Linked DNA regions of Homo sapiens. The protein of the gene in region 4 interacts with the protein of the main gene of each other region in a pairwise test. Each region holds a gene or a part of one and is shown on either strand. Other genes may lie near its edges.

Evidence for each region.
Region 1: the proteins of CBX5 (region 4) and PPARA interact in binary tests that used the Homo sapiens proteins (3 or more experiments, as listed by UniProt).
Region 2: the proteins of CBX5 (region 4) and ZNF280D interact in binary tests that used the Homo sapiens proteins (3 or more experiments, as listed by UniProt).
Region 3: the proteins of CBX5 (region 4) and ARFGAP3 interact in binary tests that used the Homo sapiens proteins (3 or more experiments, as listed by UniProt).
Region 5: the proteins of CBX5 (region 4) and DDX19B interact in binary tests that used the Homo sapiens proteins (3 or more experiments, as listed by UniProt).
Region 6: the proteins of CBX5 (region 4) and INCENP interact in binary tests that used the Homo sapiens proteins (3 or more experiments, as listed by UniProt).
Region 7: the proteins of CBX5 (region 4) and BAHD1 interact in binary tests that used the Homo sapiens proteins (3 or more experiments, as listed by UniProt).

Annotation. Positions count from the first base shown.
Region 1 is NC_000022.11:46,216,113-46,220,546, forward strand, and holds part of PPARA (peroxisome proliferator-activated receptor alpha), read left to right. Parts: intron 1-2,150; coding exon 2,151-2,289; coding exon of another isoform or gene 2,290-2,293; intron 2,294-3,699; coding exon 3,700-3,902; intron 3,903-4,434. UniProt on the Homo sapiens protein: Ligand-activated transcription factor. Key regulator of lipid metabolism. Activated by the endogenous ligand 1-palmitoyl-2-oleoyl-sn-glycerol-3-phosphocholine (16:0/18:1-GPC). Activated by oleylethanolamide, a naturally occurring lipid that regulates satiety.
Region 2 is NC_000015.10:56,663,335-56,667,768, reverse strand, and holds part of ZNF280D (zinc finger protein 280D), read left to right. Parts: intron 1-782; coding exon 783-1,090; intron 1,091-1,233; coding exon 1,234-1,374; intron 1,375-4,434. UniProt on the Homo sapiens protein: May function as a transcription factor.
Region 3 is NC_000022.11:42,847,058-42,851,491, reverse strand, and holds part of ARFGAP3 (ADP-ribosylation factor GTPase-activating protein 3), read left to right. Parts: intron 1-3,859; coding exon 3,860-3,978; intron 3,979-4,434.
Region 4 is NC_000012.12:54,251,906-54,256,339, reverse strand, and holds part of CBX5 (chromobox protein homolog 5), read left to right. Parts: intron 1-4,112; coding exon 4,113-4,299; intron 4,300-4,434. UniProt on the Homo sapiens protein: Component of heterochromatin that recognizes and binds histone H3 tails methylated at 'Lys-9' (H3K9me), leading to epigenetic repression. In contrast, it is excluded from chromatin when 'Tyr-41' of histone H3 is phosphorylated (H3Y41ph).
Region 5 is NC_000016.10:70,322,874-70,327,307, reverse strand, and holds part of DDX19B (ATP-dependent RNA helicase DDX19B), read right to left. Parts: intron 2,724-4,434; coding exon 2,621-2,723; intron 1,735-2,620; coding exon 1,620-1,734; intron 1-1,619. UniProt on the Homo sapiens protein: ATP-dependent RNA helicase involved in mRNA export from the nucleus.
Region 6 is NC_000011.10:62,133,324-62,137,757, forward strand, and holds part of INCENP (inner centromere protein), read left to right. Parts: intron 1-4,434. UniProt on the Homo sapiens protein: Component of the chromosomal passenger complex (CPC), a complex that acts as a key regulator of mitosis.
Region 7 is NC_000015.10:40,443,272-40,447,705, reverse strand, and holds part of BAHD1 (bromo adjacent homology domain-containing 1 protein), read right to left. Parts: coding exon of another isoform or gene 4,381-4,434; intron 4,358-4,380; exon of another isoform or gene 2,305-4,357; coding exon of another isoform or gene 2,163-2,304; intron 1-2,162.

The DNA.
Region 1 (4,434 bases), on a different chromosome or scaffold from region 4:
TGGCTCACGCCTATAATCTCAGCACTTTGGGAGGCCGAGGCGGCTGGATCACCTGAGGTCAGGAGTTCAAGACCAGCCTGGCCAACATGGTGAAACCCTGTCTCTACTAAAAATACAAAAATTAGCCAGGTGTGGTGGTGGGTGCCTGTAATCCCAGCTACTTGGGAGGCTGAAGCAGGAGAATTGCTTGAACTCAGGAGGCGGAGGTTGCAGTGAGCTGAGATCGAGCCATTTCACTCCAGCCTAGGCGACAAGAGTAAAACTTCATCTCAAAAAAAAAAAAAAGAGAGAAAAGAAAATAAGCCACATTAAGAACATCACTTCATTCGAATACAAGACAGAGAGCTGTTACCGTTGATCTCTGGAGCCTCCCTGAAGGCCAGGTGGGGCAGGTGTTCTCATGCTCCTGCCAGGGAAATTGGCCATCAGAGACACAGAGTATCTTGCTTAGGGTCCCACAGCCCCCAGCAGCAGGGACTGGAACCAGAGACTGGCTGCTCCTGCTCCCCAGCAGTTCCTTCCTGCACATCAGGGGCTTCTCCACCTGATTCAAGCGACAGGAACCCCCTGTGCATCTTCATCCTCCTGCTGGCTCAGCCTGCCCTAAACAGATGTGACCTGGGCCAGGAGTGCATGAAGGCAGGCCCTGTTGTCCTGCATGCTGCCAGCTGGACTGGTGGCCCTTCCGTGTTTGTCAGCGTGGTGATGAGGAGAGCTCCTGTAGCAGCGTCCCTTTAGGGTTGCACAGACGTGCTCAAGTCTGGCGCCTTATGTACGTGATATGTGGGAGATCATCATCTGAATGTTTGGTTTGAATCAGAAATCCCTTCTCACGGTGCACGCTGCAGGTGTTCACTAACTTGGAAAATGCCACCGCCTTTCTGGCACAATGTACCATCTTGGAACACCAGCATTCTGCCCTGAGCCAGGCCTGGCCTCAGAGGCCTGGGCCACAGGGAGAACCTCACAGCCAGGACACTGTGGCACTCTGCTGTCTAGAAGCCTGTCTCCCCACCCTTCCCATTCTAACCCCATGCGTTCCTCAGCCTCCCCACTGTGCAAGCCTAGGTAAGGACATTATGAAGACGTCAGCCTGCCTCTCACATTCCCCTGCACACTGCTGTCCCTCTCCCGCGGGCCAAGCAGACCCACTGTGGCAAAAATATAGAAGAATGACTTAAAAGCAAAGAGAAAAAAGAACCCAAAGCAAAAATGAACTCCTTCGCATGTTTTCTAACCATATACCTTTGAAAAAGCTCCTTATAAAGTGGCCTTTTCCTTAGGGCCATGATTAATTATTCATTTAGTTTTGTTTTTTATGGACTATTTAGTAACATTGTTTCTTGCTGGGTAGAGTTTAAGATGCTTTTACAAAGCAAGAAAATTGTTTACAAACAGCTGGCTTCCTTTTATTATAATTTTTGTCTTTGAGGGAGTTAATATACTCTTACAAAAATTCTTAGAAAGTCTTTAGTCACAAATATGGAAATGTCACAATGCTGGGGATAGTTACATTCATATACATTGTAACAAGGCTGAGTAACTCTTTGGAAAACTATAATTGTGTTTTCCCAAGTCAGATGAGGGCATTTTGAAATGACTTCGAATGCTGCCTCATTTTATTGTTTTTCACATTAAATGTAACGACATTTAAAGTTCTGTATTTGTCCTAATCATTCCAGACTTCTTAGAAGAACTATTTCTTTCTTTTTTTTTTTTTTTTTTTTTTTTTTTTTGAGATGGAGTCTCACTCTGTCGCGCAGGCTGGAGTGCAGTGGCACAATCTCAGCTCACTGCAACCTCCGCCTCCTGGGTTCAAGTGATTGTCCTACCTCAGCCTCCTGAGTAGCTGGGACTACAGACTTACATCACCATGCCCGGCTAATTTTTGTATTTTTAGTAGAGACAGGGTTGCACCATGTTGGCTAGGCTGGTCTCGAACTCCTGACCTCAGGTGATCCACCCGCCTCAGCCTCCTAAAGTGCTGGGATTACAGGCATGATCACCATGCCTGGCCTGGAATAACTTTTCTCTAAATTTTGTTCATTTAAAAAGAAACAATAAATGAGCAACAAAAAAGGTGAGTAAAGCAAGTGCGCTGGTTTCTCAGTGGCCCAGGTCTTTAAATCCACTGTGTATTACCCTCACAGGGCTTCTTTCGGCGAACGATTCGACTCAAGCTGGTGTATGACAAGTGCGACCGCAGCTGCAAGATCCAGAAAAAGAACAGAAACAAATGCCAGTATTGTCGATTTCACAAGTGCCTTTCTGTCGGGATGTCACACAACGGTAGGTAAGGTGGCCCTGCACATTTTCCCAGTTCGTTCCTCAGTTCCCCTTCCTTGCTCCAAGGGAACAGATCAAGCTATGGATGAATGTGCTTCAACATTTCACACCCAAGTCATTTTGTAATCAGAGTGGCCTAAGAAAATAAAAGTCGCCCAGGCGCGGTGGTTCACGCCTGTAATCCCAGCACTTTGGGAGGCTGAGGTGGGTGGATCACCTCAGGTCAGGAGTTTGAGACCAGCCTGGCCAATATGGTGAAACCCCGTCTCTACTAAGAATGCAAAAATTAGCTGGGTGTGGTGGCACATGCCTGTAGTCCCAGCTACTCGGGAGGCTGAGGCAGAAGAATCGCTTGAACCCGGGAGGCGGAGGTTGCAGTGAGCTGAGATTGCGCCACTGCACTCCAGCCTGGGCGACAGAGGGAGATTCCGTCTCACAAAAAAAAAAAAAAGAAAAAGAAAGAAAGAAAGAAAATAAAAGTCTCCCAGGTGCGGTGGTTCACACCTGTAATCCCAGCACTTTGGAGGCCGAGGCGGGTGGATCACTTGAGGTCAGGAGTTTGAGACCAGCCTGGCGAACATGGCAAAACCCCGTCTCTAATAAAAATACAAAAATTAGCTGGGCATGGTAGTGCACACCTGTAATCCCAGCTACTTGGGAGGATGAGACAGGAGAATAGCTTGAACCCGGGAGGCGGAGGTTGCAGTGAGCTGAGATCGCACCACTGCACTCCAGCCTGGGCGACAGAGTGCGACTCCGTCTCAAAAAAAAAGAAAAAAAAAGAAAAAGTCTCAAATAGCTGAGATTCAGTGGTGCATTGGACTCGCTGTTAGAAACTTCAGTGGTAAGACTTTGATACAGAATCGAAAAACCAAGTGGAAGGCACCAAAATGACAGAATGTTCACCTCGTCCATAGGAAGGGTGTACCACCTCAAACATCTCACCACGTTATGAATTTCCTTCTAGCCAATCATTTAATAGTTTCAGAACATGCTAATTGTGATGTGAATGTAAGTCGTTCATAAGAGTTGCATGTCTACCTTCTGGAAAAAGAAGCAGTTATTATATAAACTCATCCCGAAGCCCCGTTCACCTCCTTCACTCAAAGGTTGATGATGCACCTGATAGTGGTGTGCACCCTACTAATGAGACGAACGATGGTGTCACCTTCAGCCTGCACCTGTTAACGATGGTGTCACCTTCAGCCTGCACCTGTTTAAACATCTACAGTGTATGGAGTTTGAGTTTTTCATCTCTCCATAGTGGAAAGCCGAATAGTAATGAAGGATGGGTCTGAACTGCCTGTGAATTTTCATTCCTGGTTTAAAGTCCTGGGGGAGCCCCTCGTCCAGCCCTGTCCGCGCAGTCATGACCTCACTGCTCATGCCTGTGTTTCCCCCTCCAAACCCTAGCGATTCGTTTTGGACGAATGCCAAGATCTGAGAAAGCAAAACTGAAAGCAGAAATTCTTACCTGTGAACATGACATAGAAGATTCTGAAACTGCAGATCTCAAATCTCTGGCCAAGAGAATCTACGAGGCCTACTTGAAGAACTTCAACATGAACAAGGTCAAAGCCCGGGTCATCCTCTCAGGAAAGGCCAGTAACAATCCAGTAGGTGTTTGCGGCTGTTCTGGGTTCTCTTGGCAACATGGAACCAGTGTCGTAGAGGACGATTAAGGACACATGTGTTGAATGTTGAGAAAATTATATTTATCCCACAGTTAAGCAAAGGACAGCGAAGATGGAAACAGTTCATTCTGAGACTCTGAGCTGTAGCTTAACAACAACTCCTTTCTTCTTGCTTGGAGCCACCTCAAAGCTCTTAGCAACTAAGTTATTATACTGGCTATGTAATTAATACACTTAAAAAAAACCTTAATAGCTTACCAAGTACTAAGATGATTTCTTAGGAGCATTTTTTCTTAAATAGAGATAGGTTCTTGCTCTGTTGCCCAGGCTGGAATGCAGTGGTGCAATCATAGTTCACTGCAGCCTTGAACTCCTGGGCTCAAGCAATCCTCCTGCCTCAGCCTCCCAAGGAGCTGGGACTACAGGTGTGCACCACCACACCTGGCTATGTTTGATGTTGTTGTTGTTTTGTTTTGTTTTTGTTTTTTGGTAGAGATGAGATGTTTCCCAGGCT
Region 2 (4,434 bases), on a different chromosome or scaffold from region 4:
CATGGCTAGGAAGGCCTTTTGATTCCTGGTCCAGTGCCATTGTATGTTACCCAAGCACATGTATGTCATAGGACTTCCTTATTGACTGTTCCTCAAATACCGGAGGAGGGTATAGTCAAATGATTAACCAGAATGTTGGTAGGCACTTGTGTTTTTCATTGTCAACCAACAGATGAAATTAAACATTTTCTCATTCTGAATACTAAATGATGAACTTTGTATTAGTTTACTTTAAGAAATTTCTGAATATTATTTAGCCCTCTATGCAGTATAATAAATTGATGTAACTCCTCCCATAACATTTGTAAGCATAAATCTTGGGCACTGAGCCCCTGGAAAGAGGAGATCACATTTACTGTAGATCTGTTTCTTTTATAGTTGTTAAAGGGTAATTTAGGCCTTTCTAGAATTATTTTTCAGGCTTGAGATTTAAATTTTGAGCTCTATGCTTGTGAATTTCTTAAAGTTAAGTCAGGGCATAAAAATAGCTATGGAATGTGCTCTTTGTATATTCATATAATTTGTATTAACTCCTAATTATTCACTGATAACTGTGTTAACATATAACTGATATCAATACAAAAATGTAATATTACAACTTAATATCAAGTTTAATATCATTTAATAGTTTGAACATTTAGAATAAATGGGAGACTTACCTGATTGTAGTTTATATGTGCTTTTTTCAAAATTCTTGATTTTTAACTATTTTTGTACCATGATATTTTAATATTAATGTACTGATTAATCTCTTAAAGCAAATCTTCTCTTTATTTTTGTAGGTTACTATTCGAGCTTCAGTTGGACCTCTGCAATCAGGAGCTTCACCTACACCTTCCATTAGTGCAAGTGCTTCTACCCTTCAGCTCTCACCTCCAAGGACTAAAAATATAACTGCTAAAAATCCTGCAAAATCTAATACAAGTAAACCTAATACAGTCAAATCCAACGCAAGTAAACCTAATACAAGTAAGCCTAATGGAAGTAAATCTAAATACAAACCAAAAATCTCTAATATGCAAAAGAAACAAAGCACATTGGCTAGTAGCAATAAAAAAAGTAAAGTCAATACAGCATTGAGGAATTTAAGGTAATCTTTTATTCCTGATATACAATATAATTTAAACTTAAGTATAAAAACTTATACTTTAGTTAAGAGAACATTATTAAGGCTCTTCCTTATTATTTTTGTTTTAAAATATATTTTTATCATTTTTTTAATGTCTCCCTAAGGTATCGTCGGGGCATTCACAAATGCATTGAGTGTTGTTCCGAAATAAAAGATTTTGCAAACCACTTTCCTACGTACGTCCACTGTAGTTTTTGCAGATACAACACTAGCTGTAGCAAAGCCTATGTAAATCATATGATGAGGTAAGATGAATTAAATGTGTAAATTGCCAATTAAAATTATAGTTCAGCAAGTTTCTGTTTCAAAAACAAAGTTATCCTATTAGAAGCCAGTTTTTCTCTTCAAGGAGCTAAAAGGATCTAACAATAAGGAACTTTTAGGATATTGCCTGGTCCTATTTCTCAGCATAGTAACTAGAAATTATGGGACTAAAATTGTAAGAAAAATTAAGCTAATGAAATTAGAATAGGTTTGTTAGGGTAATAGTTTTTCTTTTTTATTTTTTTGAGATGGAGTCTCGCTCTGTTGCCCAGGCTGGAGTGCAGTGGCATCAGCTCACTGAAACCTCTGCCTCCCAGGATCAAGCAATTCCCCTGCCTTCGCCTCCTGAGTAGCTGGGACAACAGGTGTGAGCCACCATGCCTGGCTAGTTTTTGGATTTTTAGTAGAGACAGGGTTTCACCATGTTGGCCAGGCTGGTCTCAAACTGCTGACCTCAAGTGATCTGCCCGCCTTGGCCTCCCAAAGTGCTGGGATTACAGGCATGAGCCATTGCACCCGGCTGGGAAATAGTTTTTCCATGGAACTTTTTATTGCCCCATTGGTGTTTCAATAATGGTTACTTTCCAACAGAATTTTAAATTTTTAAATATATTTACTAAATAAATACTTGTAATCTCATGAGCGTCATCCTCCTTTTTTTTTTTTTTTTTTGAGACGGAGTCTCGCTGTGTCGCCCAGGCTGTAGTGGCGTCATCCTCTTTAAAGCAGTCACTTTGAGAGACTTTAAGATTTTCAGTGGAGTCTGTTTCTCTTTCTGTATTCCAACTGTCTTTTTATCCATCTGTCAGGCCATCTATACTTGCATCCATTCAGTGAAAATGAGACACCATTCCACCATGATGCCACTTTTGGAATTCTTTTTCATTAATTCATTCAACTTAGATTATTTGAGTACTTACTATTTACACTATGTTAGGAAAAGCCTTCAGAGTCTGCATTATTTTCATTTTTAGATCTCATTAGGGGAATACTTTATTCCTTCAGAATGGGTTTGTATTTTTTTTAAGTAGGCAAAAGTTGTTTAGATATAAACCTGAGAGTTTGCTTTTTCAAAGTAAGTTTGTTCAGTTTTTGTTTAAAATTAGAATTAATGTATTATAAGTGACTTTCTTGCAGATTACACATGACTTCTCTGTTACTTGCTGGTCATTATCAACTACTGCTTTCAAGGATTCTTCTACCTTTTTTGGTGGCTTCAGCACTTCTCTCGGTTTTCCCATGTCTTCATGGTTGGCCTGACCTCATGGTATCTTGCTTCTTTAGTGCCAGCATTTCACATCAACTTTTAAGTTCATATATTGTCTTTTTTTTTCTTGAAACTACAGTACTATTTAAATCTCTTCCTATAAACTGTTCATTCCTTTTGGATTTCCATTACCCCATGATGTTCAGAGCTTTGACTCCTTTTTCCAGCCTAGTAGCACCCATCTTAATTTTGTAGTCAACCTTACTCTCAGGATCATCTGTTTTGATTGTGGCTTTTTGTCCTAGAATCCTTTACATCTTTAGTCATGCTCACTGGCATAAAGGCCAAGGTAAGATTTGAACCTCTTCTCTTTTGAACTTCCTCTGTGCTCACTTCTAGACTATCAAATGGTCCTTGATTTAGTCAACTCTGATTTCAAAAACTTTAATTCTGATTAGGTCTTATTTTTTTAAAAAAGATCTCTTTATTTTTACCTGCAACATTTGTTTAATCCTTCTTCAGTACCCTAAAGATTTTATTTTAGTTTCTCAGTTGTTAACTTGGCCTATTAATTAGTCAATTGTAGGTCATCCTTTTTATTTTTCCTAAAATTAACTCTTTTCAACCCCACGTATTTTTCCTGTTACCTTCAATCAGACATTAATCTTAAAAATCTAACATGTCTCACTTCCCCATTAACTGTCCTTTCTCCCCCAGTTCACCATGACCATATTCAGTTAACTTGGATCTTCATCTCTTTCTCTCTATATGGTTCCTTCTGCTTACAAACATTTTCAGGTATTTAAAAAATTTTTTGGAAGAGGACAGTTTGTCCCAACTGCCTGTTTTCCTTATTTCTTGTCTTCCTTTTTACCATTAACATTTGTAAAAAGTGTTTGCTACCAGCTTTATTGTGATTCATTTCTTTACCTTTTGAGTATTGCCCCCACCTACCAACTAACATTCCTCTTTTAAAGATTATCTGTTATGAACATATCACCATATTTACTCCCTATTTTTCATTCTTACTCCTCTGTGACTTCTTTAGAGTATTTGACATTGTTGTCACTCACTTTTTAAAACTTAATTTGTTTAATGTTCCTGACAGCCATGTGAAATTAATTAATTTAAAAATTTTTATAGAGACTACTTCATATTTGTGGAGTACATGTGATATTTTGTTACAAGCATACAATATGTAATAAACCCAGGGATATCCATCACTTCCAATTTTATCATTTCTTCATTTCTTCTTCTTTTTCTTTTTTTGTGAGATGGGGTCTCACTCTGTCACCCCAGAGTGCTAGGTCTTGCAGTCAAAGCTCACTGCAACCTCAAACTCCTAGGCTGAAGTGATCCTCCTGTGTTAGCCTCCTGAGTAGCCATATAGGTGTGTGCCACCATGCCCAGCTACATTTATCATTTCTTTGTGATGGGAACATTCAAAATATACTCTTCTAATTAGTTTGCAATATACAAGAAATTCTTGTTCATTGTCATCACACACAGCTCTTAGTGTCATATGGAACTAAAAGCTTCCATTGCCACTCTTAGGGTTGGGTAGGTCTTTTTGTCTTTTTCTCAACCTCAGTGGTACCCTTGCTTCCCTCATTGCATTAGGTGCATCCCACTGAATGGCGAACTCTTCTCTGCAGTGTTGATTCTTGTTAGAAGTTTGAGGTTTATATATACAGAAGCCTGATTTTCTCCAAAGCATGAGAACCTTTAATTCCTATCCCGTACTAACTCTGTAGCCTCTCAATTGGTCTTTTTCCCTTTGGTCTCATACCTGCCCCAATCCATCCCTGTAAGTTGGTTAATCTTCCACAGAGTA
Region 3 (4,434 bases), on a different chromosome or scaffold from region 4:
AAGCTCAGGTGAATAAGGTAGACATGGCCCCCCCCTCATGGGGCTACATTTTAGCAATCCCTTAGCTTAGGTGATGGGTCCGGAGGATGCCAAAGCTGCCTGCCTCATTAGGAACCTCACTGCTCTCTTCTTGTAGCCAGTCTGGTGACCACCTCAGAAGTGATTCTCAAACTTGGCCTGCTCTGGGCTGTGTACCCAAAATCTCTGCCATCACCTCTACCAAAAACCCTTTGCATCCTGTCCTTGCTTACTAGGAAACAATCTTGTAACTAATTGTCTTGCCCACTGGACTGCTAGACTGTGGGCTCCATGTGGGCAGACTTCCTGAACCACGCTGGTATGTCCACTTGGTATGTGCCAGGTACACTTGATGGTAAGTGCACAGCAACTGGTAGTTGAGTAACTAGGTGAGAAATTACACACAGCCTGACGGGGAAGAACAGCACCTTTTGGCAGAGTCTGTCGTTTTGTTTGATGCCCCACAGAAGAGGGTTCTCCTAATGGCCATCACCACAGGGCGTTTGAATTTGCGCGTCTGTCTTCCCCACTTCTCAGTGAGCTCTTTAAAGACTAGCACCAATAAGCGTTCAGCTAGTGTTTGTGCTGCTACTTTTTCATACCTCATCACCTGTCACATGTCTGACATACAGCAGGTGATCAGTAAACACCAAAGTAAATCTCCTGGCCTCTTTTTGTGTCAGTTGTCACTCCACCCCGATTATTCAGTGTGCGATCAGTGTGAGCATATTGTGGTGAGGGGCTTTAGAAAACCCACTCGTGTTTCCTCTCTTGTATTGCCCTTGTATTGCCCTGAAAAGACCAGAAGCCAGATCTTGCTTGATAATGATAGGTTGGACAACCTTCACATAAGTGATTCTGCCTATAAAGTATATCTTTTTTTTTTTTTTTTTTTTTTTTTTGATAGCAGGGTCTCACTGTTGCTGAGGCTGGAGTGCAGTGGAGTGGTCTCCGCTCATTGCATCCTCCGCCTCCCAGGCTCAAGCGATCCTCTCACCTCAAACTCCTGAGTAGCTGAGACTACAGGCACGTTCCACCACGCCGGCTAATTTTTTTAATTTTTTGGTAGAGATAGGGTTTCGCCATGTTGCCCAGGCTGGTCTCAAACTCTTGAGCTCAAGCGATCTACCTGCCTTGGCCTCCCAAAGTGCTAGGATTACAGGTGTGAGCCACTGCACCCAGCCTATATATCTAATATGTATTTTTTTTTCCTGCAAAAAGATTAAAAACACCTCTATTAGAGGAATTTTTTCCCTATTCGGAGTTTAATGAGTTATAAATACTACTTTCCACAACAAGCACTGTGTATTTTATGGGCCCAGCACACTTCCGACGCGTGACTCTGCTAGTTAGCACTGTGTATTTTAAAGTACTTTTATGCTCCTGTTGGGCTTCAGTGTCAGTGTTGAAGGGGCTAGTAATTTTTGAGCTGGCAATACGTTTTTAAAGTTATTCTTTTGAGTAACAAATATTTACTGAATGCTTACCATGGGTAAGCCTATTTTTCAGGCTGTGTGTGAGATTTAAAAGTACACAACTATTCAGCAAACACTTATTGTGCGTTTACCATGTGCAGGTTCTGTGCTAGTGGACAGGAAAGTAAGGTGACAGGAGCCGGACGTGGTGGCTCACACCTGTAATCCTAGCATTTTGGGAGGCCGAGAGGGCCCAAATTGCTTGAGCCCAGGCGTTCAAGACCAGCTTAGGCAACATAGCAAGACCCCCATCTCTACAAAAGAAAAAAAAAAATCTGGGCACGGTGGCATACACTTGTCCTAACTGCTTAGGAGGCTGAGGGGGGTGGATGGCTCGAGCTCAAGAGTTCGAGACTGCAGTGAGCTAGGACCGTGCCACTGCACTCCAACCTAGGTGACAGAGCCAGACCTTGTCTCTTTAAAAAAAAAAAAAAAAAAGCCATAAAGCAGCGAGCTAGGACCGTGCCACTGCACTCCAGCCTAGGTGAGAGCCAGACCTTGTCTCCTTAAAAAAAAAAGAAAAAAAGCCATAAAGATTAGCAAAAGGGAAAGATTCTACCCCTGTAAGAGCTCTCAGTGCCCTCAGTGGGCAGGGAACGTAGTCCTCGGTTATGAACCTGCATCTAAGAGTTATCAAAGTGACCTGGACAGAGTGAGGCAGTGGAGGTAGAGAAGGGCACAGCATTTCATAAAGGAATATCTCTCTGTATTAGTCATCTATTGCTGTGTATCAGATCACCCCCAACTTGGCATCATAAAACAACAGATAGTTCTGAGGGTCAGGAATTTGGGGGTGACTTAGCTGGCTGCTTCTGACCCAGGGTCTTTCATGAGGCTGCAGTCAAGCTGTTGGCCCAGGGCTGAGGTCATCTGGGAGCTTACTCACATGGTGGTTGGCAGGCCTCCTCTCCTCGCTGGCAGTTGGACTGGGGGCCTCAACTCCTCAGCACTTCACCCTCTCCACAGGGCAACCTGAGTGTCCTCAAGACATGGCACCTGGCTTCCCCTAGAGCTAGTGATCCAAGGTGGGGAGGGAGAGAGGGGGAGAGAGAAAAAGAGAGTGGGGGAGACAGGAAAAGGCCATAGTGTCATTTGTAACCCAATCTCAAAAATGACATGGTCATTTCTGCCATATACACATAGACACACAGATCACCTTGGTAAAGTGAGGGTGGTGGAGATTACACGGGATGCAAATACCAGGAGGTGGGTTTCACTGGGGCCATCTTGGAGTCTGGCTGCCACAACCTCTTCCTCTGGCTGGGGAGAGAAGCAATATGCTCAACAGCCTGCCATCTGGTATAGCCACTGCCAGGAAGGATGGTAGGGCTGGAGTGTTTCTAGGCAGGGCTGCTTCCCTCACTAGCATTCCTTTACATGACTGGTAGGATCCCTGCTGATGCTTCAAGGATAAGGCATGTTTGAGATGGTACACAAACCTAAATTCTCTTCACTATGTATAGTGTGCATTGTTAAAATATATACATGATAGCCCGGGCGCGGTGGCTCACGCCTGTAATCCCAGCACTTTGGGAGTCCAAGGCGGGTGGATCACGAGGTCAGGAGATCGAGACTATCCTGGCTAACACGGTGAAACCCCATCTCTACTAAATATACAAAAAATTAGCCGGGTGCGGTGGCGGGCGCCTGTAGTCCCAGCTACTCAGGAGGCTGAGGCAGGAGAATGGCATGAACCTGGGAGGCGGAGCTTGCAGTGAGACGAAATCGTGCCGCTGCACTCCAGCCTGGGCGACAGAGCGAGACTCCGTCTCAAAAATAAATAGATAAATATATATATAACATAATCTGTAATATACTGTATAAATCATGTAGTAAACTGGGCACAGTGGCTCGTGCCTGTAATCCCAACACTATGGGAGGCCGAGGCTGCCAGATCACCTGAGGTCAGGAATTCGAGACCAGCCTGTCCAACATGGTAAAACCCCATCTCTACTAAAAGTACTAAATTAGTTGGGTATAGTGGTGTGAGCCTGTAGTCCCAGCTACTCCGGAGGCTGAGGCAGGAGAATCAATGGAACCTGGAAAGCAGAGGTTACAGTGAGCCGAGATTGCACCATTGCACTCCAGCCTGGGTGACAGAGCGAAACTCTGTCTCAGAATAAAAAAATACATAATATAGTAATTAACTATACTAATTTATAATTAATATAATTATATATAATAATAAAAGAGCATGAAATTTGAGGCTTTTAAAAAAACCTAGGTGAGATATTTTCTAATAATACAATCCCAAAGTTTACATTGTAAAGGTTAAACAGTTTTCAAGCTAAGTCATTTACTGTATCTTACAGGATAATTTATTTGGCTAACATAAATTAGTAACTGAATTTAACATTTTTTTTCAGGTGTGTTTTGATTGTGGTGCCAAAAATCCCAGCTGGGCAAGCATAACCTATGGAGTGTTCCTTTGCATTGATTGCTCAGGGTCCCACCGGTCACTTGGTGTTCACTTGAGTTTTATTCGGTAAGTGAATCTTCTCTCATTGGGGTGAGATTGATTACATTGTTACATGGGTGTTTTTTTCCCTTTTTTCTTTTCTTTTTTTGAGACAGTGTCTTGCCTTGTCGCCTGTCACCTTGGCTGCAGGAGTGCCATCATAGCTCACTGGGCTCAAGTGAACTCAGCCTCTACAAAAAATAAAAAATGTTGTGGTGTGATGATGTATAACTCTAGTCCTAGTTACTCAGGAGGCTGAAGTGGGAGGATCACTTAAGCCCAGGAGTCAAGGCTGCAGTGAACTATGATCTTGCCGCTGCATTCCAGCCTGGGCGACAGAGTAAGACCCTGTCTCTTAAAAAAAAAAAAAAGAAAGAAAGAAATGTGATTTTCAGTGTTGCCATACAGTATTAAAAGGTGAGGCCTTTAAGAATTGATTGAGCCCTCATTGGTATGGGTTAATGGGTTATCATGTAAGCGGCT
Region 4 (4,434 bases):
TGGGTAGCACAACAATCAGAAGATGCCCTCTGTTTGTAGAGAGGAGTGGTATCACAGCTTCCACTAGAGATGAGAACTGTTAAAGTTTGAGAGACCTCTAGAGCACTAACAGATAGGAACTAAAGTAACACCAGAAGATTTTGAAGATGTTTATTGGGCCCATTTCCACTGGAAATATTTGGGTGTTTGAAAGATACTTGAAACTCTTTCTCTGTCATTGAGCTACTGGTACCTTACCATAGATGAAAGGGGAAAAGGTAAGGTTTGGGGTAGACAAAGTAAACATTGGTCCTTTTTCAGAAATGCCCTGGATTTCATAAAAGACTGGAACAAATCAGCATTGTCTATAACTAAATGCCTACTTTGTGCTAGACAGTGATCAAATTCTACCTCTTGTGCTCTCTTCGATTCTCACAAAAGCATTTAGAGTCCAGGCATGGTGGTATGTACCCGTGGTCCCAGCTACTAGGGAGGTTGAAGTGGGAGGATTGCTTGAGTCCAGGAGTTTTGGGCTGTAGTGCACTAAACCGATCAGGTGTCTGCATTAAGTTTGGCATCAATATAGTGACCTCCCAGGAGTGAGGGACCACCAGGTTGCCTAAGTAGGAGTGAACCAGAGCAGGTCAGAACTCCCATTTTGAGCATTAGTAGGATCGTACCTGTGAATAGCCACTGCACTCCTGTCTGGTTAACATAGCAAGACCCTTGCCTCTTTCAAAACTTTAATTCTTTTTTTAATTTAAATTTTTACATATTTTTATCTTTTTTTTTTTTTTTTTTTGAGACAGAGTCTCTCACTATCGCCCACGCTGGAGCTCAGTGGCGCGATCTCAGCTCACTGCAACCTCCGCCTCCCGGGTTCAAGCGATTCTCCTGCCTCAGCCTCCCGAGTAGCTGGGATTACAGGTGCCTGCCACCACGCCCAGCTAACTTTTTGTATTTTTAGTAGAGACAGCATTTCACCATGTTGGCCAGGCTGGTCTCGAACTCCTGACCTTGTGATTCGCCCACCTCAGCCTCCCAAAGTGTTGGGATTACAGGCGTGAGCCACCACGCCCTGCTTTTTTATCTTCAAAATAGAGACAGGGTCTCACTGTGTTACCCAGGCTGGTCTCGCTCTCTTGGGTTCAAGCGATCTGCCTGCCTTGGCCTCTTGAAGTGCTGGGATTATAGGTGTGAATCACTATTCCTGGCCAACCCAGGCTCTTTTTAAATCATACTATGTTGTCTTTTGGGTGGAAACTGAAGTAGAAGCAGCAGTACCAAAGTGTTAGGAAAAGGGATAATCGCATTATAGGACTGGCTTTTCTAGCTATCAACAGATTCTTCCCAACCCCCAAGTGTATTCGGCTTGTGTAATAGTCTTGGTACACCTTTTGATATTGGTATGTTAATTTCCTCTGGGATGGTAAACTATATGGTCTGTGGGTTTTGGGGAAAGTTACTGTGTGAGGAATTTTTTTTCTTGACTTCTTTTCTTTTTTTGAGACAAGAGTTTTGCTCTTATTGCCCAGGCTGGTGTGCAATGGCGTGATCTTGGCTCACTGCAACCTCCTTCTCCCGGGTTCAAACGATTCTCCTGCCTCAGCCTCCTGAGTAGATGGGATTACAGGCGCCCGCCACCACGCCCTTCTAAATTTTGTATTTTTATTAGAGATGGGGTTTCACTGTGTTGGCCAGGATGGTCTCGACCTCCTGACCTCAGGTGATCCACCTGCTTCTGCTTCCCAAAGTGCTGGGATTAGAGACTTGAGCCACCGTGCCCGGCCGAGGAATTTTTTTTCTGCTGAGAGAAGGGATATAAAGGAGAAACTTTCCCATATTAGCTCAAATGATTTAGAAATAAATTTTGTCTCAATATTATGTTCCTTTTGTAGAAAGTTGTTTAGGTCAAGAGTAAATAGCTCAGATTTTTCCGTCTTTCTGCTTTCTACTTGAGTCAGGTTATTATGGCATGTGTTCAAATCATTCCCATCTAAATAAACCTTTTTTTTTTTTTTTTTTTTTTGAGATGGAGTTTCACTCTTGTTGCCCAGGCTGGAGTGCAATAGCTCGAACTCAGCTCACCACAACCTCCTGCCTCCCGGGTTCAAGTGATCCTCCCTCCTCAGCCTCCTGAGTAGCTAGGATTACAGGCAGGTGCCACCATGCCCGACTGCTTCAGCCTCCCAAAGTACTGGGATTACACGCATGAGCCACCGTGCCTGGCTGAATTTTGGGTTTTTAAATAGCTTTATCGAGGTATTATTTAAACACCATAACATTCACCCATTGAAATTGTACAATTCAGGCTAGATGCGGTGGCTCACATCCATAATTCCAGCACTTTGAGTGGCCGAAGCAGGCGGATCACTTGAGGTCAGGAGTTCGAGACCAGCCTGGCCAACATGGTGAAACCCCGTCTCTACTAAAAATACAAAAATTGGTGGCGCATGCCTGTAATCCTAGTTACCGGGGAGGCTGAGGCCGAAGAATGGCTTGAACCCAGGAGACAGGTTGCAGCGAGCCGATATCACACCACTGCACTCCAGCCTGCAAGACAGAGTGAGACTCCATCTCAAAAAAAAAAAAAATTGTACAATTCAGTGATTTTTTTTTTTTTTTTTTTTTTTGAGATGGTATCTCACTCTGTTACCCAGGTGGGAGTGCAGTGGTGCAATCACGGTTCACTGCAGCCTCAACCTTCTGGGCTCAAGGGATCCTCTCATTTCAGCCTCCCAAGTAGCTAGGACTACAGGTGCAAGCCACCATGCCTGAGTAATTTTTAAATCTTCTGTGGAGACAGGAGTCTTGCTATGTTGCTTAGGCTGGTCTTTGAACTGTTGGGCTCAAGTGATCTGCTCACCTTAGCCTCCCAAAGTGCTGAGATTACAGGCGTGAGTCACTGCGCCCAGCCCAATTAAATTATTATTATTGTTTTTTTTTGAGATAGAGTCTCAGTCTGTTGCCCAGACTGGAATGCAGTGGTGCAGTCTTGGCTCACTACAACCGCAGCCTCCCAGATTCAAGCAGTTCTCATGCCCTAGCCTCCTGCGTAGCTGGGACTGCAGGTGTGCACCACCAAGCCCAGCTAATTTTTGTATTTTTAGTGGAGACAGGGTTTTGCAATATTGACCAGGCTGGTCTCGAACTCCTGAGTGCCTCTCAAAGTGCTGGGATTACAGGCGTTAGCCACTGTGCCTGGCTCCAATTAAATGATTTGGAATAAATTTATAGAGCTATGCAACCACCACTATGATCCAGTTTCAGAACATTTTTGTGTCCCCCAAAATTCTCTTGATTCCCATTTGTAGTTAATTACAACTCCCTCCCTCAGCCCCAGGCATTCACTGATCTGCTTTTTTTTTTTTTTTTTTTTTTGAGACAGAGTCTGGCTTTTTCGCCCAGGCAGGAGTGGCACAATCTCAGCTCACTGCAACCTCCCCTTCCCGGGCTCAAGCAATTCTCCTGCCTCAGCCTCCCGAGTAGCTGGGACTACAGATGTGTACCACCACACCAAGCTAATTTTTGTAATTTTAGTAGAGACACGGTTTCACTGTGTTGGCCAGGCTGGTCTCAAACTCCTGACCTCAAGTGATCTGCCTGCCTCGGCCTCCCAGAGTGCTGGGATTACAGGTGTGAGCCACCGTGCCCGGCTGATCTGCTTTCTGTCTCTATAAATTTGTCTTTCCCAGACATTTCATGTAAATGGAATTAGTATGTAGTATCTTGTGTCTTATTTCTTTCACTTAGTATAATGTTTTTGGGGTTCTTCCAAGTTGTAGCATGTTTTAATATTTTGCTTATTGTTGTTGGATAATATTCCTTTGTATGGATATACCACATTTTGTTTTTCCATGTCACCATCCATTGATGAACATTTGAATTTGTTTTCTGTTTTTGGCTATTAAAATGCTGCTGTAAACAATTGTAAATAAGTCTTTGTGTGGGCTTTTTTTTTTTTTTCATTTTTCCTGGGTAGAAATCTAGGATCAAATTTGTTATCTTCTTTAAAGCATAGGGTTTCTCTGTCCTTTTTGTCCGAATGTCCTCTTTGAAATAAGGCATTGGATTTTTTTCCTCATTCTTTACCCCCCCCTTTTTTTTTTAATTTTCCCATTTTTCTTACCCAGGGAGCACAATACTTGGGAACCTGAGAAAAACTTGGATTGCCCTGAGCTAATTTCTGAATTTATGAAAAAGTATAAGAAGATGAAGGAGGGTGAAAATAATAAACCCAGGGAGAAGTCAGAAAGTAACAAGAGGAAATCCAATTTCTCAAACAGTGCCGATGACATCAAATCTAAAAAAAAGAGAGAGGTAAGCTTCCTTTCCCTTTTCCCCAAAAACTATTCTTTTGCCACCAAAATAATAATAATAAATAAAAGTATCATATTTTGGTTATTTCTATTGTAAGGATGGACCTATAAGGTAAATTGTTGAACAAAAGAGCTT
Region 5 (4,434 bases), on a different chromosome or scaffold from region 4:
CCACCTCGGCCTGCTAAAGTGCTGGGATTACAGGCATGAGCCACCATGTTTGGCCTACAAAAAAAATTTTTAGAAAATTAGCTGGGTGTGGCCAGGCACGGTGGCTCGTGCCTGGAGTCAGAACTCCAGCCTAGGTGACCTAGCGAAACTGTCTCAAAATAAAAAAAAGAAGGCGGCCAGGCGCAGTGGCTCACGCCTGTAATCCCAGCACTTTGGGAGGCCAAGGCGGGAGGATCACGAGGTCAGCAGATAGAGACCATCCTGGCTAACACAGTGAAACCCCGTCTCTACTAAAAATACAAAAAATTAGCTGGGCGTAGTGGTGGGCGCCTGTAGTCCCAGCTACTCAGGAGGCTGAGGCAGGAGAATGGTGTGAACCCCAGAGGCAGAGCTTGCAGTGAGCCAAGACTGTGCCACTGCTCTCCAGCCTGGGCGACAGGGCGAGACTCTCTCTCAAAAAAAAAAGAAAGAAGTCTGGGCACAGTGGCTCACACCTATAATCTCAGCACTTTGGGAGGCCGAGGCAGATGGATAACCTGAGGTCAAGAGTTTGAGACCAGCCTGGCCAACGTGGTGAAACCCCATCTGTACTAAAAATACAAAATTAGCCAGCCATGGTGGCAGGCACCTGTAATCCCAGCTACTTGGGAGTCTGAGGCAGGAGAATCACTTGAACCCGGAGGGCAGAGGTTGCAGTGAGCCAAGATCATGCCACTGTACTCCAGCCTGAGTGACAGAGCAAGACTCTGTTTCTAAAATAAATAAATAAAAATAAACAAATCTAGAATGTAGAATTTTTGTTTGTTTGTTTTTTGTTTGTTTGCTTGTTTTGAGACGGAGTCTCGCTCTGTCGCCCAGGCTCGAGTGCAGTGGCGCTATTTCAGCTCACTGCTAGCTCTGCCTCCCAGGTTCACACCATTCTCCTGCCTCAGCCTCGCAAGTAGCTGGGACTACAGGTGCCCGCCACCACGCCTGGCTAATTTTTTTGTATTTTTATTAGATACGGGGTTTCACCATGATAGCTAGGATGGTCTCAATCTCCTGATCTCGTGATCTGCTGCCCGCCTCGGCCTCCCAAAGGGCTGGGATTACAGGCGTGAGCCACCGCGCCCGGCCAGAATGTAGAATATTTGAAAAGCAACTAGTCTGGTCTGTGCAAAATGTTAAATATAATAGGGAGAGAAAAAGGTAGGGGTACAATTCTAGATTGAAAGAAACAAGTACAACAACCAAACGCAACGTATAAACGCTAACTTGATCTTGGTCGAAAAACCAAACAGCTATAAAGGAAGACTTTGGGAACAGCTGGGGAGGAATAAAAATGGACTGGTATTAGTTATTCTAGGAAATCTGTTAATTTTCCTGGTTGTGATAAAAGGGTATCCATAGGTATGGCAAAGAATGTCCTCATGAGGTGCATGTCTGCAGTTTACTTTCAAATGGTTTGACAAAAATGTATACATTTATGTAAAGCAAATATGGCAAAATGTTAAGTTTTTGAATCTAGCTGGAGAACATACATGTGTTTATTGTATTATTTCAACTATTGGGTGGGTTTTGAAATATTTCAAAATAAAAAGAATTAGGTTGATGATTTAGGACCAAATTCACATACTCACATTTATTGCCTCGAACAGCATAAGCTAGCTTCAGTTCAGGGTAAAATTTGCCCATTTGTTCAATCACTTTTCCTGTTTGGAGGGCGAGCTCATACGTTGGGGAGAGACATAGACACTGGCAGGAAAAGAATGCAGAGTGCAAATTCAAGACAATAGCTCTTTTGCAAAGGGGAATTACCATTAGTACTTAGCCACTCCTCCAGCTGAAGCTGAAGGAAAGAATATGTACATTAAAATGTACACCATTTGATTCTTTAAGCTACAGAGTCATAAGCTAGAATTCTTAGGGGTCAGAACTCTGGCTGGGTAAAGACACTTGAAAACAGATACTGGCCACTGCAATACAAAAACCCACCCATGAGCAAGGATCTAAAGTTCCAATTGGCATTAGCTTTCTTTTCGTTTACTCAGAAAGCTCTCAGAACTTTCTAATGGATGGCAGTTGCTGATGAAACAGGTTTTCCTGCAAGTAAAGGAGCCAAGCCTGTAAGAAGCATCCCAGAACTGGCACACCATGGAAAAAGGAAACAGGATTTTTATTGCCATTGGAAGATATCCCGTATTATTTGTGCTCAATTTAAGGAGTTTCAGTTTGTGTAAAAAGTAATGCATAGCTTGGCTTTTATTTTATTTTTTTGAGACAGAGTTTCGTTCTTTTTGCCCAGGCTGGAGTGCAATGGTGCGATCTCAGCTCACTGCAACCTCCGCCTCCCGGGTTCAAATGATTCTCTTGCCTCAGTTTCCCAAGTAGCTGGGATTACAGGCACATGCCACCAGGCCCAGCTAATTTTTTATTTTTAGTAGAGACAGGGTTTCACCATGTTGGCCAGGCTGGTCTAGAACTCCTGACCTCAGGTGATCCGCCCACCTCGGCCTCCCAAAGTGCTGGGATTACAGGCATGAGCCACTGCACCCAGCCCATAGCTTGTCTTTTAATCCATCAAATGGAAATCCCCTTCTATCTATGCATTAGTAGAAAACCTAAATTCATAAATCCTTACCTGGGGGTATTTGTTTGCAGGTTCTACTTGGCTAAGCATGGCCAGCACGAAGGCAGCTGTTTTACCAGTACCAGACTGAGATTGGGCAATTAAGTTCTGTGGGCTGCGCAAGAAACAAACTAGTTAGGAGCTTAAATCTCAACCTTTTAGTTAACAAAGTTTAAAAAAATGAGTATTAAAAATTCATTTATAGGAGACCTTGGATTATGTAGCAGAGTTACATATGCTAGCTTCACAAGAACAGGGCACTATAGAAATAAGATTTTCTGGTGGGATTTGAAGCACTCCACATCTTCTTCTTTTTTTTTTTTTTTTTTTTTTTTTTGAGATTAGGTCTCACTCTGTTGACCAGGCTGGAGTGCAGTGGCACAATCTTGGCTCACTGCAGCCTCAACCTCCTGGGCTCAAGTGATCCTCTTGCCTCAGCCTCCCAAAGTGCTGGGATTATAGGTGTGAGTCACTGCAGTTGGCCTACTGATTCTTAAAATGTGAGTCAGCTCACATTACTTCTCTGCCCAAAGACCTTCCAATAATTCCTCGTTTCATTCAGAGTACAAGTTGAAACCCTCATAATGGCATACAGGTCCTGCATGATCTGCTCCCCATTACACCTCAGCTCTCATTTCCTACTACTCTCTCTCCCTTACTTCGTTCCACCACAGGGCCCTAGTACTGCTCAGAGAACATGCCAGTCATGCTCTTGTCTTAGGGCTTCTGCCTTGGCTGTGCTCTGCTTGGGACAACTGTCCCCAGATAACATGCTAACTCCCTTCTCTCCTTCAAGTCTTTGCCCAGATATCTACTTCAGGAGATCCTACCTTAACCACTTGATTTAAAAGTGTAATCTACCTTGAAATGCCTAAAAAAAACAAGATGTAGGTTTTGGTAGCAGGGTAGGGGGTAAGAGTGGCAAGAACCAAGTCTTGCCTTGAAGGTGGCAAGAAGCAGCTCAAGAAGCAGGCAAGGCCAGGCGCGGTGGCTCATGCCTGCAATCCCAGAACTTTGGGAGGCCGAGGTGGGTGGATCATTCGAGGTCAGGAATTTGAGACCAGCCTGGCCAACATGGTAAAACCCTGACTCTACTAAAAATACAAAAATTAGCCAGGCATGGTGGTGGGCGCCTGTAGTCCCAGCTCCTTGGGAGGCTGAGGCAGGAGAATCGCTTGAACCCACGAGGCAGAGGTTGCAGTGAGCCGAGATCGCGCCACTGTACTCCAGCCTGGGTGATAGAGCGAGACTCAGTGTCAAAAAAAAAAAAAGAAAAAAGAAAAAAAGCAGGCAAGGTCAGGTGCAGTGGCTCATGCCTGCAATCTCAGCACTTCGGGAGGTTGAGGTGGGTGATTTCTTGAGCCTAGGAGTTTGAGACCAGCCTGGGCAAAATACCGAAACCCTTTCTCTACAAAAGATACAAACATTAGCTGGACATGGTGGTACATACCTGAAGTCCCAGCTACCTGGGAGGCTGACATGTGAGGATCTCTTGAGCCCAGGAGGTGGAGGGTGGAGGTTGCAGGCTGCAGTGAGCTGAGACTGCACCACTGTACTCCAGCCCTGGTGACAGAGCAAGACCCTGTCTCAAAAAAACAAAAAACAAAAAACGGAGCAGCCGCAGCAGGCCAAAGATATGGACGAGGAAAATGAGGTCTTCCGGCAGGGGAAAAAACAAACAAACAAACAGAAGAAACATGAACTAAAAGTGAAACCATGGGGAGGGCCCCCGGCCACAGGTGGAATTTTAAAATCTGGCAAAAGTAAGCTGTTCCTTATGGGGACTTTTTTTTTTTTTTTTTTTTTTTGCAACGGAGTTTCACTGT
Region 6 (4,434 bases), on a different chromosome or scaffold from region 4:
GCCAGCAGTCAGCGTGGGTGGAGGGGGCTTCTGGAAGCCAGAGTGTGGCCCCGGGGCGTGGAACTGCTGTGTGTCAGCAGGAATCCCCTGCCTCCTGGCCTGGTGCGCACGTGCCTGCGGGGCCCATCGGGCAGCAGTTCTGAAGTGGATAGGAAGGGACAGGCCCACTGCCTCAGGACTCCACCTTGGGGCGTTCGAGCCACCTCTGCATTGGAGAACAGTCCTTCCATCCCTCTGCCAGTGCTTAGGCCACTTCCCTACCACCAGACCAGCTCTGAGGCCTGAATGTCGTGCAGATGGCACTTAGCATTCCAGAGAATGCTTGTGCTGGTGGGAGAGCCATGTAGTCACATGGGCGTCTTCATCAGGGAGCACGTGAGCTGGGATGACACAGCATGGGGAGATGAGGAGGATGTATCTTCTGGGTATAAACCCCTTAAATGGGGGTCATCACCACCCATGACTGTCAGCCCGGCGCTGCAGCTGCTCCCACCACCTCCCCAAACCTGGCTGCTATACCCAGGAAGGGTCCTGGCTTCCCTTCTCTGTGCCTGGCCTGCTGTCTTCCCTCTTTTCCTGAGACCCTGTGCACCCCAACCTCCCGCTGGCCACCTCCCAGCCTGAACTCTGACCAAGCCCCCATGGCTCAGGATGCGCCAGCTCAGCTACCTTCTCTCTGTTCCCCAAAAAAGCCTCTTTTTTTCCTGCCTCATGGCCTTGGCCCTCCTTCTCCCTAGACCAGTGGCACTGGGAACAGGCATGCTCCCAGCTAGGAAGAAGCCGGGGACATAAAGCTAGCAGCTGTGGTGAGGATACCAGGGTGAGTGCTGAGGGTGAGGGACCTGGGCTTCCTGTTTTTAATGATTAAGCCTCAGCCTCAAAAAGCTTTTGACAGCCTGGACAACATGGCCAGACCCTATCTCTACCAAAATGGAAAAAATTAGCCAGGTATGGTGGCATGTGCCTGTAGTCCCAGCTACTCAGGAGGCTGAGGTGGGAGGATTGCTTGAACCCAGGAGGTCGAGGCTGCACTGAGCTGAGATTGTGCCACTGCACTCCAGACAGAGTGAGACTCTGTTAAAAAAAAAAAAAAAAAAGCTTTGATTATGAGGTTATATCTATTGATCGTTACTGTATTAAAAATTAAAACTGAGGAGTTTAAAAGTATTTTAAATATTAATATTTTTATATGAATATTTAGTACTTTAAAGATTTAAAAATATTGTTTAATATTTTAACATTATAAAATGCAAGTACCAAGCCTATCACCTGTTTACATTAAGACTTTTTATGAAAAAATAACTTTTCCAAAACAAAAATGTACTGAAGACACTGGCATTATTCTACATTTTGCAAATCTCTTTATTGTATGACTTTAAATAAGCCACATTCTGCGTTTGATCTGTTGTTGCATTGTGTTGTTTGGGTTAAAGTAACTGAAGAACTGGACGGGCGAGGTGGCTCACACCTGTAATCCCAGCACATTGGGAGGCCGAGGTGGGCAGATCATGAGGTTAAGAGATTGAGACTGTCTTGGCCAACATGGTGAAACCCTGTCTCTACTGAAAATACAAAAAATTATCTGGGCGTGGTGGCACGTGCCTGTAGTCCCAGCTACTCAGGAAGCTGAGGCAGGAGGATTGCTTGAAACCGGGAGGTGGAGGTTACAGTGAGCTGAATTCACGCCACTTCACTCCAGCCTGGGTGATACAGTGAGACTCTGTCTCAAAAAAAAAAAGTAGCTAAAGAACATCTGGCCTCACATAGACGTGTAGTTGGGAAAGGGAGGAGTATCTTCATAGCTTTTTCAGATAATTATGCATATTCTTTGTTATCAGGACCAGCGCAAGAAGTGGTAGTTCTTAAAGGTTTGTTGTGGTGTGGAATCTGAAACCATGTTGCTGATTCCACACGGGTCTACCTTGCACTTTGTTTTGTTTTTTTTTGTTTTGTTTTGTTTTTGAGATGAAATCTCACTCTGTCGCCCAGGCTGGAGTGCAGTGGTGCGATCTCAGCTCACTGCAACCTCTGCCTCCCGGTTCAAGTGATTCTCTTGCCTCAGCCTCCCGAGTAGCTGGGATTACAGGTGCCCACCGACGCCCGGATAATTTTTGTCTTTTCAGTAGAGACGGGGTTTCACCATGTTGCCAGGCTGGTCTCAAACTCCTGACCTCAAATCATCCGTCTGCCTCGGCTTCCCAAAGTGCTGGGATTACAGGCGTGAGCCACCACAACTGGCCACACTTTGAATGGATCTTTTAGATGTGTCTGATTTCATAACCACATACATCGATCATTTCGAAAATATTGTTTCACCAAGTTATGCACGTCTTCCAAGTGTTGACACCCTTCATTATATAATATCCTAAAAAAGCACATTTGTTTTCTGACCTCATCAGAAAAGTCCTTAGATATTAGGATGCTGTGACCCTGCTGGTGGTGGATACGCGCTTTTCAAAATTCTACTCTTGGATTCGTTTTGGCTCAATTTTTTTTTTCTTTTTGAGATGGAGTCTTGCTCTGTTGCCCAGGCTGGAGTGCAGTGGCACAATCTCAGCTCACTGCAAGCTCCGCCTCCCGGGTTCACGCCATTCTCCTGCCTCAGCCTCCCGAGTAGCTGGGACTACAGGCGCCCACCACTACGCCCGGCTAATTTTTTGTATTTCTACTAGAGACGGGGTTTCACCGTGGTCTCGATCTCCTGACCTAGTGATCCGCCCGCCTCGGCCTCCCAAAGTGCTGGGATTACAGGCGTGAGCCACCGCACCCGGCCTTGGCCCAATTTTTAAATTATTGTCAGCACGTGGTGTTTTATTTTTGTGATGGATTCACTTCATTGACTTGTGAAAAAATGTCTTCCAGATACCCAAGACTGAATAACCATTGTCAGTCGTTCTTTTAATTAATAATAGTGGTTCAGGTGAAAAAGTGGCTAGTGCAGCTGGCAGCTTAGAGACGAGCGCTTTTCACAGAGAGTTGGGTTTGCAGCAACAGGCATTGTGCACACTTCCCACCTCAGCACACAGAAGAGTAGAATGGCATGTACTTGAGTTTAGATTTAGTAAAATTAGGACTTTTGCAGGCGCAGTGGCTCACGCCTGTAATCCCAGCACTTTGGGAGGCTGAGGCAGGTGGTTCACTTGAGGACGAGTTCAAGACCAGCCTGGCCAACATAGCGAAACCCTATCTCTACTAAAAATATAAAAAATTAGCTGGGTGTGATGGTACATGCCTGTAATTCCAGCTACTTGGGAGGCTGAGGCACCAGAATCCCTTGAACCCATGAGGTGGAGGTTGCAGTGAGCTGAGATTGCGCCACTGCATTCAGCCTGAGTGACAGAGTGAGAGTCTGTCTCAAAAAAAGAAAAAAAATTAGTACTTTTTACACCTTCATCAAGGACATTCCTCAGTGAAACTGGACATCTCTCCTTCCCGTGAGTGTGTGGTCCGAGGATAGTGTTTGATGCTCTGGCCTTGACTGGGGCTGAGGCTTCAGCAGCTAGTTCCTCATTGCTTTTGTGCCATCAGGGCAAATGTCAACATAGTGAAAGGGAAAGTAACATTTTAGTATCATAATTTTAGTATCATGATTAGTTACGACCTCGTGGATCCCCCATGGGTCTCAAGGACGTCCAAGGGTCAGAGGATGCAAGCTGAGAACCACTGGCCTGGACATCCTCCTCCTTTGTAAACTCCTCCAGGCCAGCTCAGGTCCCCCCATCATAGGCTTTTAAAATTCTCTGCTCTGGACCAGGCGCAGTGGCTCACGCCTGTAATCCCAGCACTTTGGGAGGCCGAGGCGGGTGGATCACTTGAGGTCAGGAGTTCGAGACCAGACTGGCCAACATGGTGAAACCCTGTCTCTATTAAAAATACAAAAATTAGCCGGAAGTCGCTTGAACCCAGGAGGCAGTGGTTGCAGTGAGCTGAGATTGTTCCACTACACACCAGCCTGGGCAACAGAGCAAGACTCCGTCTCAAAAAAAAGAAAAAAAATTTCTCTGCTCTGTTCCACCATTGCCCATGCTGGTGTTGTTGATAGGACTATTTGATGATTGTTATCTAGACCAGATGGTGGTTCTGTTTTGCTCACCATTGGGGTCCTGGGGCCTGGCCCAGGTCCCAGTACACTGTAGACACTTGATGAATATTTGTTGACAGAATAAGCTGCTTTGTGTTGGGCCCCATGCTGGGAGTTTGGGGCCTGGAGCTGCAGCAAACATTGTCCCTCTTCTCGAGATATTCCCAGCCCAGTGAAGGTGCCCAGCCGTGCTCTCAGATGGGCATGGGAAGACCATCTGGGAAGCAGCCGGGGACATGAAGCCAGCAGCTCCGATAAGGACACTAGTATGAGTGCTGAGGGGAGGGTCCTGGGCATGGTGGGGGCTCCACGGCTAGTGATGGGAGCAGTGGCCAGGCCCTTGCTGGAACCCG
Region 7 (4,434 bases), on a different chromosome or scaffold from region 4:
TGCCCCTTGTCTACCTCCCTCTGGGCCAAATAAATTCAAGTCCTTTCAATTTCTCTGGAAATCATCTCTCAGTTATTCAATCATTTTTATTTTTATTTATTTATTTATTTATTTATTTATTTATTTATTTATTTATTTATTTATTCTGGAGACAGAGTCTTGCTCTGTCGCCCAGACTGGAGTGCACTGGCGCGATCTGCAACCTCTGTCTCCTGGGTTCAAACAATTCTCCTGTCTCAGCCTCCTGAGTAGCTGGAATTACAGGTGTATGCTACCAGACCCGGCTCATTTTTGTATTTTTAGTAGAGACGGGGTTTCAGCATGTTGGCCAGGGTGGTCTTGAACTCCTGACCTCAAGTGATCCACCCGCCTCAGCCTCCCAAAGTGCTGGGATTAAAGGTGTGAGCCACGGCACCTGGCCTCAATCATTTTTATAATTCTTTTTTACATTCTAGCCAATGTGGAAACCCCTCCAGGCACAAAGCAGGAGACACCCCTCACTACTGAGGAAGGCCCTGCTGGCCCTGACTATGGTGGAAACGTGACTTCACCCCTCCTTCTGGCATACTTGTTAGGATCTCCTGGCATCAAGCGGCACCCTAATAATACCTTTCCCACGATTTCTACATAGGTCCTCTAAAAAACAGTAATTCACCTTTAAACCACCTGGCCACATGAGAATGTGATTAACAATTATTCCTAAACATTGTGGACAGGTAACCAGAGTTGGAAAAGGGTCTGTGTGGGCTGCCCCTCTCCACTGCACGCAGGAAGCTGAAAAAGCTGCACTGATGGAGGCTAGGAGTCCCCAAAAGGCATTGGAGATGGAATAAAAGTAGGAGCCATCAACAGCACTCCAGGTGAGATCCCTGGGGTCAAGAGAACGGCAGAAAGACAGGTCCCATCCTCCTTACCCAAAGACAGGAGGTCAAAGCACCTCTTTTCCCCAAACCCACTGGAAAAGGAACACATGCAAGAAAAAATATTGAGACCCAAGTTCCTGCCTGACATTGGTAACAAGACTAAGAAATCACCTGTTTTTTTTCATTCAGCTAACTTGGTCATAGTGCTTAGAAATAAGTTCCCAATTCAAATCAGCGAGGCTGAGAGACAAACCCCTTTTTTTCTCCTGGTGGATTGGGCCTGCAGAGGATCTTAAAAGACAATGTTATTTTTTTGTGTTGGGGGGACACTGAGTCAAGTGAATAACCATCCTTGCAGGTGTTTCCCACTGGGAAAAATGAAATCTGATGACCCCACTCCCACCCACAGGGACACAACACAAAGTCCTGGATGTGACTGTACTCCAGGGCCTGCTTACCAAGTCACCTGGGGCAGGACACCAACACCCCTGTTGGAACCCCAGGGCTGGGCCGGTGTTCAGTGAGGGTGCTTGTCAGGCCGTCTGGCCCTGAGCAGACCACGTGCAGCCTCACTGCTGCTGGTGCTCTTTCTCCTCCTCCTTTTTAGCCATTTTACTGATCATTAGTGGCAGTACCAGGAGGTGGGCAGGGGAACATAAAGGAGCTGAAATTCAAACCAGCCCATTTTACACCACTTAGGTGCCTCCCATAAAACCGGGCAAGATTTCATCATCCAAGAACTCCCTGTCCTCTGTCCTGTGGAGGTCTAAGCAGCCTGAGGGGTCAGGAGCTACACCATCTCCAGACCCCAGGATCAGGAGCCTCTATCTCTAATTATCATGAGCTCTTGACTGCGCATGGTATTTTCTGTCACTTCAGGGTTAACAGGCATTTCCAGCCATGAGCTGGCCCATCAAGTCAACGCCAGGAAACCTGCAGAGTGGGAGTGCTGGGGCTGCCCTCAGAACCGAAGCACACTCTCCTTGTCCCTCCAAAGTCCCCAGCACAATGGCAAGTTCACAAAGGAAGTGAGCCTTGCCAGACTGTGCTAGCAAATTCCCATAAATACTTGGGTCGGGGTAGTACTGCTTATGTAAAATGCTTCCCCATTGAGAGATGCTGCTTTATTTACATTCTTCACAACCCATTCATAAAAAGGAGGCCCTTTAATGTCGGGGCTGTTCGTATAATGCTCCATAAACTCGGCAGCTTCGCCTGGCAGCCTTAGTTCAACACAGGCTACTTCTCAACTCCAGAGACTTTTTTTCCTTAAGGTTTTTATTCTCCTTAATGACTCACCTTGCGACAGGGTGCTGAGGCCAGATGTTGCCGGAGCAAGGCCAAGAGGAATAAGAACAGATAAAATGAAAACACACAAGTCCTCCTGGATGCTGGAACAGAGAGGTGAGGAGGAATGAAAATAATTTTGAGAATTCCCCATAGAACTCCAATTTGAAGTATGTATGCTAGGAGGCTGAATTCCTTCCAGGTTTACTAAAACTTCCTTTCTGGATGTCAAATGTGCCCCAACTTATACCTCTAACCAGAGAAGGTGTGAAAGGGTTGTTTTTTTTTTTTTTTTTTTTACCCAAAAGGAGCTCTCTCTAGTTTTTAATTTGCACCGGGGATGAATAAATAAACAGAAATTTTCTCTGTTTCTTGATATAAGTGTTCCAGGGGCTGCTGGCTCCAGAAGGGGCACAATTTGCTCAGAGTGAAGAAACTCAGGCAATCCCCAGAAAGAGAGGAAGGACTGTGTTCTAGGACACACAGCAAACACAGCTAAAGGAGCTGAGAAGAGAGCCCAGGAGATGCATTCTGAGGTAGCTTTTCTCCTGCTACAGTAGAAGGAGGAGAGAAGTAGTAGGGATTTTTTTTTTAATTGACGGGGGAGCGGTCTGCATTGCCATGGCAACTGTGAGGGGTGGCCTTCCCGCGTAGAAGGGAAATGCTGGTCCATTAATCATCAAACTGGGGCACAAAAGGGAGGTTTGGGGGAAAGGGGATGGATGCAGAATATATTTTTTCACTATCTGGCCTCTAACCAGTCACCAGTCCTCTTTCCCGTTTCCCCCATGGTCCAGGGTTGATGGTGAACCAAAACAGAAGCCTGAGAGAGCAGGGATTGTAGCTTTCCTTTATGAGGGGTCCAATGTGGGGCTGATTGTGCCTCTTATGTTGGTGATGCCCCCATAAACACCTCTTCCAAACCAGCCCCAAAAGTCCCATCTATGGGCCAGACCCAGGAGTATTTTTCTTTTCTGTGCTCAGAATTGTGTTTTCTCCCTCATTTGCACCCGGTTTGAGAAGAGATAAAACATGGATTCATTTAGCATGAACAACAAGGAAAACTGCATAAGAGCAGCAAAGCTGGGTAGAAAGAATGGTGGTCCGGTGAGGTAGGAGGAAAACAGGATTACAGCCCTTTTCCAATGTCTATATGGTATCACATAAGCAATCCATAGGACTCTTCACCAGCAGAAATATTAGAAACAGCAGTTAAATTTCCCATTTACAGCACCCCAAACATGCCCTATCCATATGCCTTTGACAGAAAGGGCTGGAAATCTCCAAGGACTCCAATATGAGCATTTCTGGAGAAGCTGAAAGGAAGGTCTCCCCCTTGTTCCTGCCTAACTCAGCAACCAACCACATTTATTCACTCAACAAAAATGATGTGCACAGCACTGTACAAGAAATACCAGAATATTCACACACACACACACACACACAGAGGTTTAACACTCATATTGTTCCTGTCCTTAAGAAATTTCCAACCTACAAAACCACTCAAGAGGATACCACGTTAGAAAATCCAGAGTCATGAGCTCAGGCGGGGATGACTATGTTGGCCTGGAGTGGTCTGAGCAACAACCAGACTAAGGACAAGTGGGATTCAAGTGGGAGTAAAGGAAGGGGAGCGGCAGCAGTGAAGATGCAGGAAGAAAAAATGTGCATGGTATGGCTAGGGAAGAGCTGGAGGGGACACTGTCTAGGGTCAGACTGCAGGGAACGGGGAGCCATTGCAAGTCTGTGAGAAAGGGAGTGACACCGGGAAGGGGTGTTTTAGGAAGAATGACCTGGTAGCTGCATACAGACTGGATCAGAAGGGCCAAAGGAAGCAGGAGGGAAAGGGAGGCTATAACAACAACACAGGCCTGACACGGGGACAGCAGGACAACAGAAAGGAAGAAAGAGAGGGAGATATCAAAAAGAACCTAATCACTGGCTAAACTCTCCGGAGCAAACCCTCCTTAACACCAGATCCGACTGGCATGAGTCTCCTGCCAGGTAAGAGCCCTACCAAAGAGGGAAATGCTATTTGGGCAACTCCCCTTCATATTCCAGTGGCCAGACCACGTCATCCCCTTCTGACTGCCACCAAAAGAAATCACATGCCGTGTAGCCTCACAGAAGGCACAAAGGCCTTGAGATTCATCATCACTCTCTGGATTTTAGACATGCAATTAAATTATCTCAGAACAAACTTTAGCCTCCTGAGTGAGGTAATACCTACCTTTCTCACAAGCCTCAGCTCCATCCAGGCTGGGGTCTAGATCATTCCAGGGAG